Linked DNA regions of Homo sapiens: region 2 is linked to region 1. Evidence: fine-mapped expression QTL. A gene starts in region 1. The other region holds a variant in brackets. All regions are shown on one strand. Distances are between the middles of the regions.

The links. PIP is the estimated chance that this variant, and not a neighbour inherited with it, causes the effect.
Region 2: its variant is fine-mapped to the expression of MLXIP in fibroblasts (GTEx, PIP 0.98).

What each region holds. Positions count from the first base shown.
Region 1 is chr12:122,076,484-122,081,847 of GRCh38, forward strand. MLXIP (MLX interacting protein) reads left to right here and starts at 2,273. Exons shown (of 17, transcript NM_014938.6): 1 at 2,273-2,783. The coding sequence starts at 2,371. RefSeq lists enhancers at 499-548, 2,616-2,855, 4,723-4,772, 4,843-4,892 and silencers at 1,816-2,095, 2,106-2,555.
Region 2 is chr12:122,126,824-122,132,187 of GRCh38, forward strand. It overlaps MLXIP (MLX interacting protein), which reads left to right. Exons shown (of 17, transcript NM_014938.6): 2 at 433-539; 3 at 1,060-1,145; 4 at 2,314-2,403; 5 at 2,765-2,806; 6 at 3,118-3,289; 7 at 4,021-4,110. Among named protein-coding and RNA genes, the nearest start is that of IL31, 45 kb to the right of the region's middle. RefSeq lists enhancers at 1-226, 227-737, 2,664-3,863. The variant A/G (reference allele first, on the strand shown) is at 2,229.

The sequences.
Region 1 (5,364 bases):
AAAGACAAAAAAGCAGGGCATGGTGGCTCACACCTGTAATTCTAGCACCTTGGGAGGCTGAGGCAGGAGGATCACTTGAGGTCAGGAACTCGAGACGAGACCAGGCTGGGCAGCATGGCGAGACCCCATCTCTATAAAAAGTACAAAAATTAGCAGGGCACGGTGGTGTGCACCTGTGGTCCTGCTACTTGGGAAGTTGAGGTGGGAGGATCACCTGAGCCCTGGAGGTTGAGGGTGCTGTGAGCCATGATGGCACCACTCCACTCCAGTCCAGGTGAAAGAGCCAGATCCTGTCTCAAAAAAAAAAAAAAAAAAAAGTGGCTGGGCATGTAAACTTACCAAGGACCAAGGAGACAAGTCTTGAGAGAAAGGAAGGCAACTCAAAGGATGGACTTTTAAACACTTGTAACCAGCATTGGGAACAGTAGTAGGTTGAAGAGGGAAATCTAGAACTCATGCCTGAAAACTGCCAGTCATCCAGCCCATTTTTCCATACAGACATTTGGAAATAAGTTAATGGAGCCATTTTGGTGAGAGCCCTCTGTTCCCTTCAGGAGGCCTTTGTCAGGAAGAGGGTGGGGCAGGGGACTCACCCCCCACTCAAATCTGGAACTGAAACCAGCTTCAAAGCCGAGTGCAGAGCCAGCGCGGTGGCTCATGCCTGTCATCCCAGCACTTTGGGAGTCCAAGGCAGGCCTCACTTGAGGTCAGGAGTTCCAGACCGGCCTGGCCAACATGGTGATTGCACCACTGCGCTACAGCCTTGGGTGACAGAGCAAGACTCTGTCTCAAAAAACAAAACAACAATAAAACAAAGCAGAGTGCAGGAGTGGCTGTGGACTCTGGACGCCCTGCTAGGATTAGGATGGGTGTTCCTGGCTCATGGGCCTCACTGGCTCTTCTGATGCCCTGCCACCCCCACCCCAGACTGGCTTTGAGCCCCGGAAACCTTGACAGCTTTCTAGAGGTGTCTGTCAGTTAGGTTGTGCCACGCGAAGTTGCCGTTTCTGCAGGTCAAATAGTGGTGGACTATTGGCAATTTCTAGGCACCTCTGGTCTGGTTGATCCAAATCCTCCAACCTGTGGCACATTTATTTAGCGCTCATTTTGTGCCAGCCTGCCTGCTAAGCAACTTATAGCCATTTTTATTTGTATTTATTTTTCTTTTTGAGACAGGGCCTCGCTCTGTCGCCCAGGCTAGAGTGCAATGGCGCAATCTCGGCTCACTGCAACCTCCACCTCCCGGATTCAAGCGATTCTCCTGCCTCAGCCTCCCGAGTAGCTGGGATTACAGGGGTGCACCACTACGACCGGCTAATTTTTGTTATTTTTAGTAGAGACAGGGTTTCACCGTGTTGGCCTGGCTGGTCTTGAACTTCTGGCCTCAAGTGATCCACCCGCCTCGGCCTCCAAAAGTGCTAGGATTACAGGCATGAGCCACCGCGCCCCACTATAGCCATTTTTAAACTGTCCCAAGTTTCTGAGGAAACGGAATTGTTCACCATTTGACAGAGAAGAAAACTCTGGCTCAGATACTCCCCTTTTAGAATTGTTTCGGGGGCTGGCTCGTCCGTCAAACTTTAAAAAAATAACAACAGCATGCTGAGTTGAAGTTAAAAGAGCTGGGGTCTGGAGGTCGCTGGGCTCAGGGGCGCTGCCACTCAACAGCTGCGCCGAGCTGGGGACGCGCAGGGGAAGCAAGTTCCCAGCTCTGTGGACTCCAGGTCTGAGAAAAATCCTGTCGGTATTCAGCCACCCAGTGTTCCCATCAATACGATGAGAATAATGAGGACAATAGCCACCACGTCCGGCAAACTCAGGCGTGAGCTGCGAGGACTCGGTACCGCCCGGCAGGGAAAAAGCAGGGCCTGGAGGCCGAGGAGCCCCACCCGCACCCACCACGTGGAGCCGGCCGGGCCTGCGGCGAAGCCACAGGGCGACTCCCGGGGCGCGGAGCGGGGCGGGGGCGGGACTAGCACGGCCCCACTCTGCCGACGCCTCTCCCAGGTCGCGACACCGGCGAGCCGCTCCGCCCGGCCACCGTGTCCCTCAGCACCCACGGACGCCGGGAGAGGAGGAGGTGGCGAGGGGCACGGCCGGGAGGCGTGGCCTCCGCTTCCCCTTTTTTTTTTTTTTTGGTCCGCCTAGCTAAGGAAAGGTTCCCCTGCGCCTTTAAGAGGCCGACGCGGGCAGCCGATTGGCCCAGACGCCTCGGTGACGTCACGCCGGGGCCGGAGCCCTCCCCCTCCCGCCGCGCCGCGCGCTCGCGGACAGTCGGCGCGCGGGCCGGGCCGGGCCGGCGCCCCTCTGCCTCGCGCGCTTGTCGCGTTGCCCCGGGCTCCGGGGGATGCCCCCGGCCGAGCCCTTCTCATGGCCGCCGACGTCTTCATGTGCTCCCCGCGCCGGCCTCGCAGCCGGGGCCGCCAGGTGCTGCTCAAGCCCCAGGTGTCCGAGGACGACGACGACTCGGACACGGATGAGCCGTCCCCGCCGCCCGCCTCCGGCGCGGCCACCCCGGCCCGGGCCCACGCGAGCGCCGCGCCACCGCCGCCTCGGGCCGGGCCGGGCCGCGAGGAACCTCCGCGCCGCCAGCAGATCATCCACAGCGGCCACTTCATGGTGTCGTCGCCGCACCGAGAGCACCCGCCCAAGAAGGGCTACGATTTCGACACGGTCAACAAACAGACGTGCCAGACCTACAGCTTCGGCAAGACTAGCTCCTGCCACCTGTCCATCGACGCCTCGCTCACCAAGCTCTTCGAGTGCATGACTTTGGCCTACAGGTAGGGACCCCCGCGACCCCCTGAGGCCCCGGCCGGAGGCCCTTGTTTGACAAAACAAGCGTGGAGGGAAGGGCCGCCTGGCAACCCCGTGGCTTCATGCATTCCCTTTGGGTCTTCCTCCTTCGGGAGGGTTTATGGATCTGGGGTTCCCCGCGTTGCCAGAGGAGCCGGGGTCCTGGCCTCTTCCCCTGCCAGCAGTGCCGGGGTCCTTTCGGGTTCACGTTCCCCATCCAGGCCCTCCCCTCCAGTGTCCTGGGACCACCGATGTTGGACGAGGAAGAGGTATAAACACTGGCTGCATCTTGTGTTACCCGACTCTATCGACTCCTTCCTCCAAACGCTTTGTGTGTTTCCCCCATATCCAGCAGCGGTCAGGACCACCTGTTCGGGGTGACTGGAGGCTGGCTCTGCTGTTTAATGGTTGTGTAACACCTCGGAGCCTGTTTCCTCCTTTATAAAAGGGGAATGACTGTAGTGTCTGCCTCCAAGGGGCTGTTGTGGGGATGGAGTGAGATAGGTAAATTGCTTATTCCAGTGCTTGGCCAGAGTTAGGTGTCCCTGCACCTGGAGGCTGGCCCCCTTACAACCTCATCGGGAGGCCCGCCCCCATCTCGGGAGGGCTTTGGGTGCCTCCTAAGAAGACTTTTGGTGCCACAGCTGTTGGAGGTGCAGTCTGTCCTTCTGGCAAGTTGGAGGGTTTTCTGGCCGGTCCTGAAACATTATATGAGGGAGATGTCATTGTTGAGGGCAGACATCCCAGACACCGTTCTGACATGTGGATTCGGCTCTGGGCAGAGATTCCTCTTTTCCAAGTCACAGAAAATGCCTGGCCCTCAAAGATTAAAGCGCTTTTTCACTCTCTCTCCCTTTCCCACTATGAATATTAGGTATTTGCTGCAGGTAACTTTTTTGTCTGCGCAACAGAACTTCTTTGGACTGGCAGCAGCGGCCTTGAGCAGCTTGGCCCTGCAGAAAGCTCATGATGGGATCTCTGCTGAGTTAAGCTTATTGCATTAGGAACTGGACTAGCGGGGGCTGTCTTAGGTCTGCTCTGGAGGCATCGCGGGAGAAGTTTCCTAGGAGACTCCATAAACAGCGTAATAAAAGAGCAGGAATATCTTGCCCCCTCTCACCTCACCTTTTTAAGAGAGCTGTGAGCCCCAAGCATATCCAGGTTTAAATGTTATGCTTTTACCTGAAGTTAAAATATTAGATACTTAGCCCTGGATGGCACCCCCCTCACCGCCGCGGTCCCTGGAATAAACGATTAGTCAACTTGTTCTTTGTTATGTTCCTGAAACACCCCTATTTCCTCTCTTGAAGGTTTCCCTGATGATCTGTTCCCGTAGCTCCTCCTCCCATCCCCCTTACCCGGCACATTGGTCAGTCTCTGCTGATTCTCTGGTCTTGCCAGTTTGAGCTGGCACTGAGCCTGTAAAGATGTTCTGCTTTTTAAAAAACAAATGGTGTTGAGGCTGCAGCCCTGTGCGCCCTCCAGTCTCTGATTTTGAGCAGTTCCATTGGAATCAAACCCGACTGGATCGCAGCATATGCTATGCCTCGAGAGAGCCTTTTCAAACAAAGCTCGAGGTGAAAGACTGGAATGTATCTTATTAAGAAAACTTAATCCTCTTCTTTATTTTAATATAAACTTCTACATATACAGGGAGAGAATGGATGAGTCACGGGGGGCATGGACTGGAAAGGTCTCACCTAAGTAAGCTCTGCTAAATGAAAACTAAATCAGTCTCCCCTTTGCACTCTTGTTTGGATAACCTAAAGGCTTATTAAACAACACCAAATAATTTTAGTAATGGCATTTTTTTTTTCATTTCTCTCAAAAATATTTTGGCAGCTGGCCGTTGCTCAGTTAACTTTCTTGATTGCAAAATGCACCATCAGTTTGGTGCAAGAAGCTTATCTTGCTCTCTTGGCTCTCTCACTTTCGCTGCTTTTCCCTGTGCCTAAGGTCTCCTGCTGCCTAAGGTCGGCCACCTAAGGTCTACCACCACAGGCCCTCGGATGGGATCTGTCCAGTCATTTCTCATGAAGATGCCCTTTGTCTGTCTGTGTGAGGCTGGTTTGTCCAGTGCTGAGTTTAGTTGGCAGTGTAGAACTTTGGTATGGATGACAGACAAATGACTCAAAACCAGTTGTCTGGGCTGTAGTCTGTGGCACAGAAAGAAACTAGAGGAAGGTGAGTTTCTGACCCCAGCTCTCCTAGTGAGAACTGCTACCTGGCTTTCAGGGAAGGAAGGTTGAGATCGGAGGCAACGCGGGGCGTGGTGGCTCATGCCTGTAGTCCCAGCACTTTGGGAGGCCGAGGTGGGGGATTGCTTGAGCCCAGGAGTTCAAGATCAGCCTGGGCAATGTAGCAAGATCCCCATCTCTAAAAAAGAAAAAGAAAGAAAGAAAAAAAGGGATTGGGGGCAGGGCAGAAAGAAGACTTAACCTCAGAGCCTGTCTGGCTTCCATCCTGGTGGGGTTCATGCCTTCCCTGCCGGCTGTCTGGGTCCTCCCCTCCTGCCCGAGCTGAGAAAGGCCAGCTGGGTCTCCTCTTCTGTGTGACTGTTTCTGGCCT
Region 2 (5,364 bases), 50 kb after region 1:
TTGAATCCAGGAAGGGAGGCTGGTCAAATGTGAATAACAATGAACAGCCCAAATGTAACCTTTGCTCCTCCTGGAGGGCACTCACTGCATGCCCAGTGTTCAGTTTGTTAGTCTGGTTCATGGAATCCTCCCAGCAGCCCTCTGCAGAGGTGTTTGGGTTAAAGTCCCTTCAACAGATATTGGTGGGTGGCTCCAAGGCTGCAAAACCCCCACGGCCAGTCCTGCCCTCCGCGCCCTGACAGTATCCCCACCATGCCCTGCCCTGTGTGGCTCTGAAGAAATCCCCCAGTGACCTGAATTCCATGAAGCCGGGTGTATGGCTGGGGGTGGATCAGTCAAGAGTTTGGTCCTGGAATGATCGGGTGGCACTTTGTAATTTCACTTCAATTTCAGAGTAACCACTGAGTCTCCCCGCTTTGCCTTGCCTTTCAGTGGGAAGTTGGTGTCTCCAAAGTGGAAGAATTTCAAGGGCCTGAAGCTACAGTGGAGAGACAAGATCCGGCTCAATAATGCCATCTGGCGGGCCTGGTACATGCAGTGTAAGTGCCGCCCAGCCTGGGCGCCGGTGGTGGTCAGAACTTCACGGCCTGGAGGCCTGGGCACCCAGGGACCAGAGTCTGCTCCTGGGACCTGGTGTTTCTAACAGAAGTTCAGTCTGTGCAGACAGGAAACCCAAGCCATCAGGCCCAGCAGAGGGGTGGCATCTGAAGAGTCAGGGAGCAGGTCTAGGAAGACTCAGGCATGGGCCTTCTCTCTCCAGCCCGAGTGTCATGGATCCGGTAGCTTCTCCGGGAGATGAGTGTGCTAGGGCAGGCTTGTGTTGGGCTGGTCTTTCTCTGAGAAGCCACACTGCCTCTCTGACTGAGGCGTTCGTTATTGACAGATTCCTCTCCTTTCACCTGGACTCCTTTATTTCCCTGAAATCTCCTTTTCCTAGGGAAGGAGAAGGAAAGGGTACCTGGGAATGTGGTCTGCCCTAGGGGAGGGGTGCAGCAGACAGGCTGGGGCTCCCTCAGGGGTCTGGATCATGGTGCTGACTCTCACCCTCTCTCTGCTCAGATCTGGAGAAGCGCAAGAATCCTGTGTGCCACTTTGTGACACCCCTGGACGGCTCTGTGGACGTAGACGAGCACCGCCGGCCGGAGGTACTTGGCAGTGACCAAGGGTGGCTGAGAGTGGAAACATACCAGCACCTCACCGGGAGTGGCTCACCGCGGGCTGGTCCTGTAGGAGAGGCTGCCGAGGGTAGTGCAGCGCCTGCCCTGCGCCATCCATGCCCTGGGGGCCAGGCCTGGGAGCTGGTGGCCTCTGGCAACCCCAGGCTGCAGAGCCTCCCCCTTCTCAGAGGGACTGGCCCAGGGACTGAGGGGGTTAATATCTTTCTGTTAATTTTTAAAGTGTGTGTCTATGTGTGATTATACATGCACAGGAAGTGTCTAGAGGAATATATAGAAGTGTCTTTATTAAGAGACTTCAGGAACCTCTGGGGAGTAGGATTAGGGCTGCCAGATGAGGGGGAGATGCTTTCTTCACTGCATACTCTTCTGTGTGGCTTTAATTTTGTCTAGGCATGTCTCACTGTTAACGATAAAGGGGGAATTTAGAAGGTAAGCTAATGAAAGACAGTTTTGAGACAGGTATAATCTGGTATTAGACAGTATCAAGGGATATCATTTTGTTGGGTATGGCAATATTGTAATCAGTTCTTTTTAACAGAAAAGCATCTTTGCTGTCGAGGACACACACACAGTGTTTGTAGGTGAGGTGATTTGGGCCTTGAGATCAGAAAGTGAGGCAACCCCAGGCATTGGGGCTCCTTATCTCTGGAGCTCGAAGGCTGTCATGCAAGGCATCCACACTGGCATCACGCGAAGGTTGGATGAGAGGCCCCTGGAGGGCACATTCCACCTGAAACTTCCTGGAATTGGCTGTTCATTTTTGCCCTTTGAATGTGGCAGAGGCTGTGGGGAAGGGGCATTTATGGGGGGGCTTGGGAATTGCTGCAGCGTTCCCCTGCTTCTTCCTCTGTGGAGCATTCTGCTCTCACCCTGTCCTCCTGGACAGAGCCTCAGGACCGTGCCCCCAAGGCCTTTGGCTACCTTAGGTCTTGAAATGACAGCGCATTGTTAGCTAGAGGGTCTGCTATAGCATGGAAGAAGTGGGACGTACTTTCTGAGTGATGTGGTAGCCACTGTGGGGTTTCCCGCTGGATTGCCTAAGGCCTGATT[A/G]TAGTGCCGGATACTCAGTACACCAGTTGAGCTTTGCTAATCAAGCAGAGCCCCCTCTTCACTCTGCTCTCTGTCCCTGTCCTAGGCCATCACCACGGAAGGGAAGTACTGGAAGAGCCGCATCGAGATTGTGATCCGGGAGTATCACAAGTGGAGAACCTACTTCAAGAAAAGGGTATCTGGCTGGAGTGTTCAGGCAGCCCGCCTAGGGAGGGAGTGGGCAGAGTCCCTGGTTCAGGGCCCTGGCCGAGGCGGTAGGCTCCACAGCCGCCCCACCTGAACGTGGAGCGTCAAGCAGTAAATCTGGGGCCCAGCGTGCCAGACTAGCCTGGGCAATGGCCTGCCTCGGTCAGGTTGTCTTTGCTCTCAGTTTCCCCATCTGTGCACTGGGTGGAAGTCTCCTTTGTGCAGGCATCGGCCTGGGGATGGTGTGAGCAGGACCCCTACCTGCCTCCCTGAGAGTTCTGTATATTCTAGAGCCCTTGGGCCCTCCTAGGGCCATTGGTGACCGCCGTGTCCTGTCCCTTTGCCCACAGCTACAGCAGCACAAGGATGAGGACCTCTCCAGCCTGGTCCAGGTGGGTGAGCCTGGGAGCTCTGAGGACCCCCACTTTGACATGAGACAGCAGGGACTTCGGTGGCCCACCAGGGAGCCCTGCAAAAGGCGGCAGGCCATGGGCCCTCCCTGGAGTCTCAGGAATGGCTCAAGAAGCAGTCCAGCTCTCTCTCCTGGGTGGGCTGGAGGGAGCCGCTCTCCAAATGCCTCCACCCTGCTGCCTCACTTCCACTGAGCACCCCTTTGACGAATTTCCCCAGGTGACAGGCGTGGGAATTCTTCGTCCCACTGTTACTCTTTGATGCTTCCTCCCCTGTGTTGGTGTTGTGTTAGGACGATGACATGCTGTATTGGCACAAGCACGGGGATGGATGGAAGACCCCCGTCCCCATGGAGGAGGATCCCCTGCTGGACACAGACATGCTCATGTCGGAATTCAGCGACACCCTCTTCTCCACACTTTCTTCACACCAGCCGGTGGCCTGGCCCAATCCCCGGGAAATAGGTAACCCAAACCAGGGCCTTGGGCTTTGAACAGCCAGCCGCTTCCTTCTCTGCCAGGCCCCCTCTGGGCCAGGGTTCCTTCAGGGCCATCTCTGAGCTGCTGCACGTCACGGTTGGGGGCAGGCAGTAAGGAAGGGAAGGATGGCTGGCCTCATTTGACATCCAGGCCGCACGTACCGAGTGGGTGGGGTCTGCAGAGTGGGCCCACTGGGCAGCTGCCATTCCCGTAGTGCCATGGTGGGAGGACAGCAGCAGGGTCTAGTCTGAGTCATTGGCACATTTCAGATACCGTTCTCTTCACGGGGTACGTGTGCCGTGCCTAAGCCGAGGCGGCCGGGCCGTGACTCATGCTAAAGAAAATCAGAAGCACTCCCGGGTGTGACCGCTCACCTTGGTGGCATTCAGTCTTCCAGTTAACCTCTCAGGGAAGAGCCCAAAGATTGAAAATTAGAACAGTGTTCGGGGAGGTCTCTGTTCTCTCTTGAGCTCTTTACAGCTTCCTGGGGTGTCCATTCCCTGATACTCAATTTTACCTTCCTGGCAAAAACTTACTTTCCTGCCTTTTGAGGGTGCGGAATGGCCACAAACCCTGAGAAGGTAGAAATCCCAGCCAGCTCCTTGGAAGACTCTGGGATGTGAGCAGGGCCAGGAAGTTCTGTTCCAGGCCTTTTTTACGTTCCTGCAACATTGTCTGAGAAGACAAAATGGTTCCTCTCTCTGTGATTCTTGCAGCACATCTGGGAAATGCAGACATGATCCAGCCGGGACTGATTCCTTTGCAGCCTAACCTGGACTTCATGGACACCTTTGAGCCTTTCCAGGGTGAGGACCAGAGGCAGAGAGAGCACGGTTGCCTCCATCTCCCCCAGCCCAGCACAGAGCAGATCGCTGCCTTCCTTTAAGAGGCGAGACTTGGTAGAATGGGCAAGGGGGCGAGCAAAGAATTTTTTTTTAAACTGAACTGTTTTTTGTAGTAACTGCAAGGTCTGGGAAGTTTTTCTGGGACATTGTTCAGCAAGGAAATTGGCTCTGGATTTAGCCGTGACTGTAAGCAGTTCTCCCTCGAAGCAGCAGAGGGCACTGATGACACAGCCAGCTCCCTACCAAGGCCCTGCAGTTAGATGGGTCCTTGAGCACCTGCCATTGTGACAGCAGCAGAAACGTCAGGCCTGGGAGTGTTTCAGAGCCCAGGATAGTTGCCAACATGTGTGGTTCCAACCAGAGCCCCCTTTCTACAGAAAAAAAGGTGTCTCAGGGTAATACCCTCTGTCCATGGCATCCCCCTGGGCCATGTGGGGTTTAGGGGTTTAGTCCTTGATTTGTTTGAGTCTTTTTTTTTTTTTTTTTTTTTTTTTAGAGACAGGGTCTTGCACTGTCACCCAGGCTAGAGTGCAGTGGTTCAATCATGGTTCACTGCAGCCCTGAACTCCTGGGCTCAAGCGATCCTCCCACCTCAGCCTCCTGAGTACCTGGGACTACAGGCACACACCACCACACCCAGTTCATTTCTTCATTTTTTTGTAAAGACGGGGGTCTGCTATGTTGCCCAGGTGATCCTCCTGCCTCTGCTTCCCAAAGTGCTGGGATTACAGGTGTAAGCCATCACACCCAGCCTGTTTTAGTCTTTGTTATTTTGAGACAGAGCCTTGCTCTGTAGCCCACGCTGGAGTGCAGTGGCAAGAACACGGCTCACTGCACCCTCAACCTCCCTCCTGGACTTAAGCGATCCTTCCGCTTCAGCCTCCTGTGTAGTTGGGACCACTGGTGGCACCAACCAGGCATGGTGGTTGTGGTTGGCACCTTTTTTTTTTTTTTTTTTTTTTTTTTTTTGAGACGGGAATCTCGCTCTGTCATCAGGCTGGAGTGCAGTGGTGCGATCTTAGCTCACTGCAACCCCTGCCTCCTGGGTTCAAGCCATTCTCCTGCCTCAGCCTCCTGAGTAGCTGGGACTACAGGCATGTGCCACTACACCCAGCTAATTTTTGTATTTTTAGTAGAGATGGAGTTTCACCATGTTAGCCAGGATGGTCTTGATCTCTTGACCTCATGATCTGCCTACCTCGGCCTCCCAAAGTG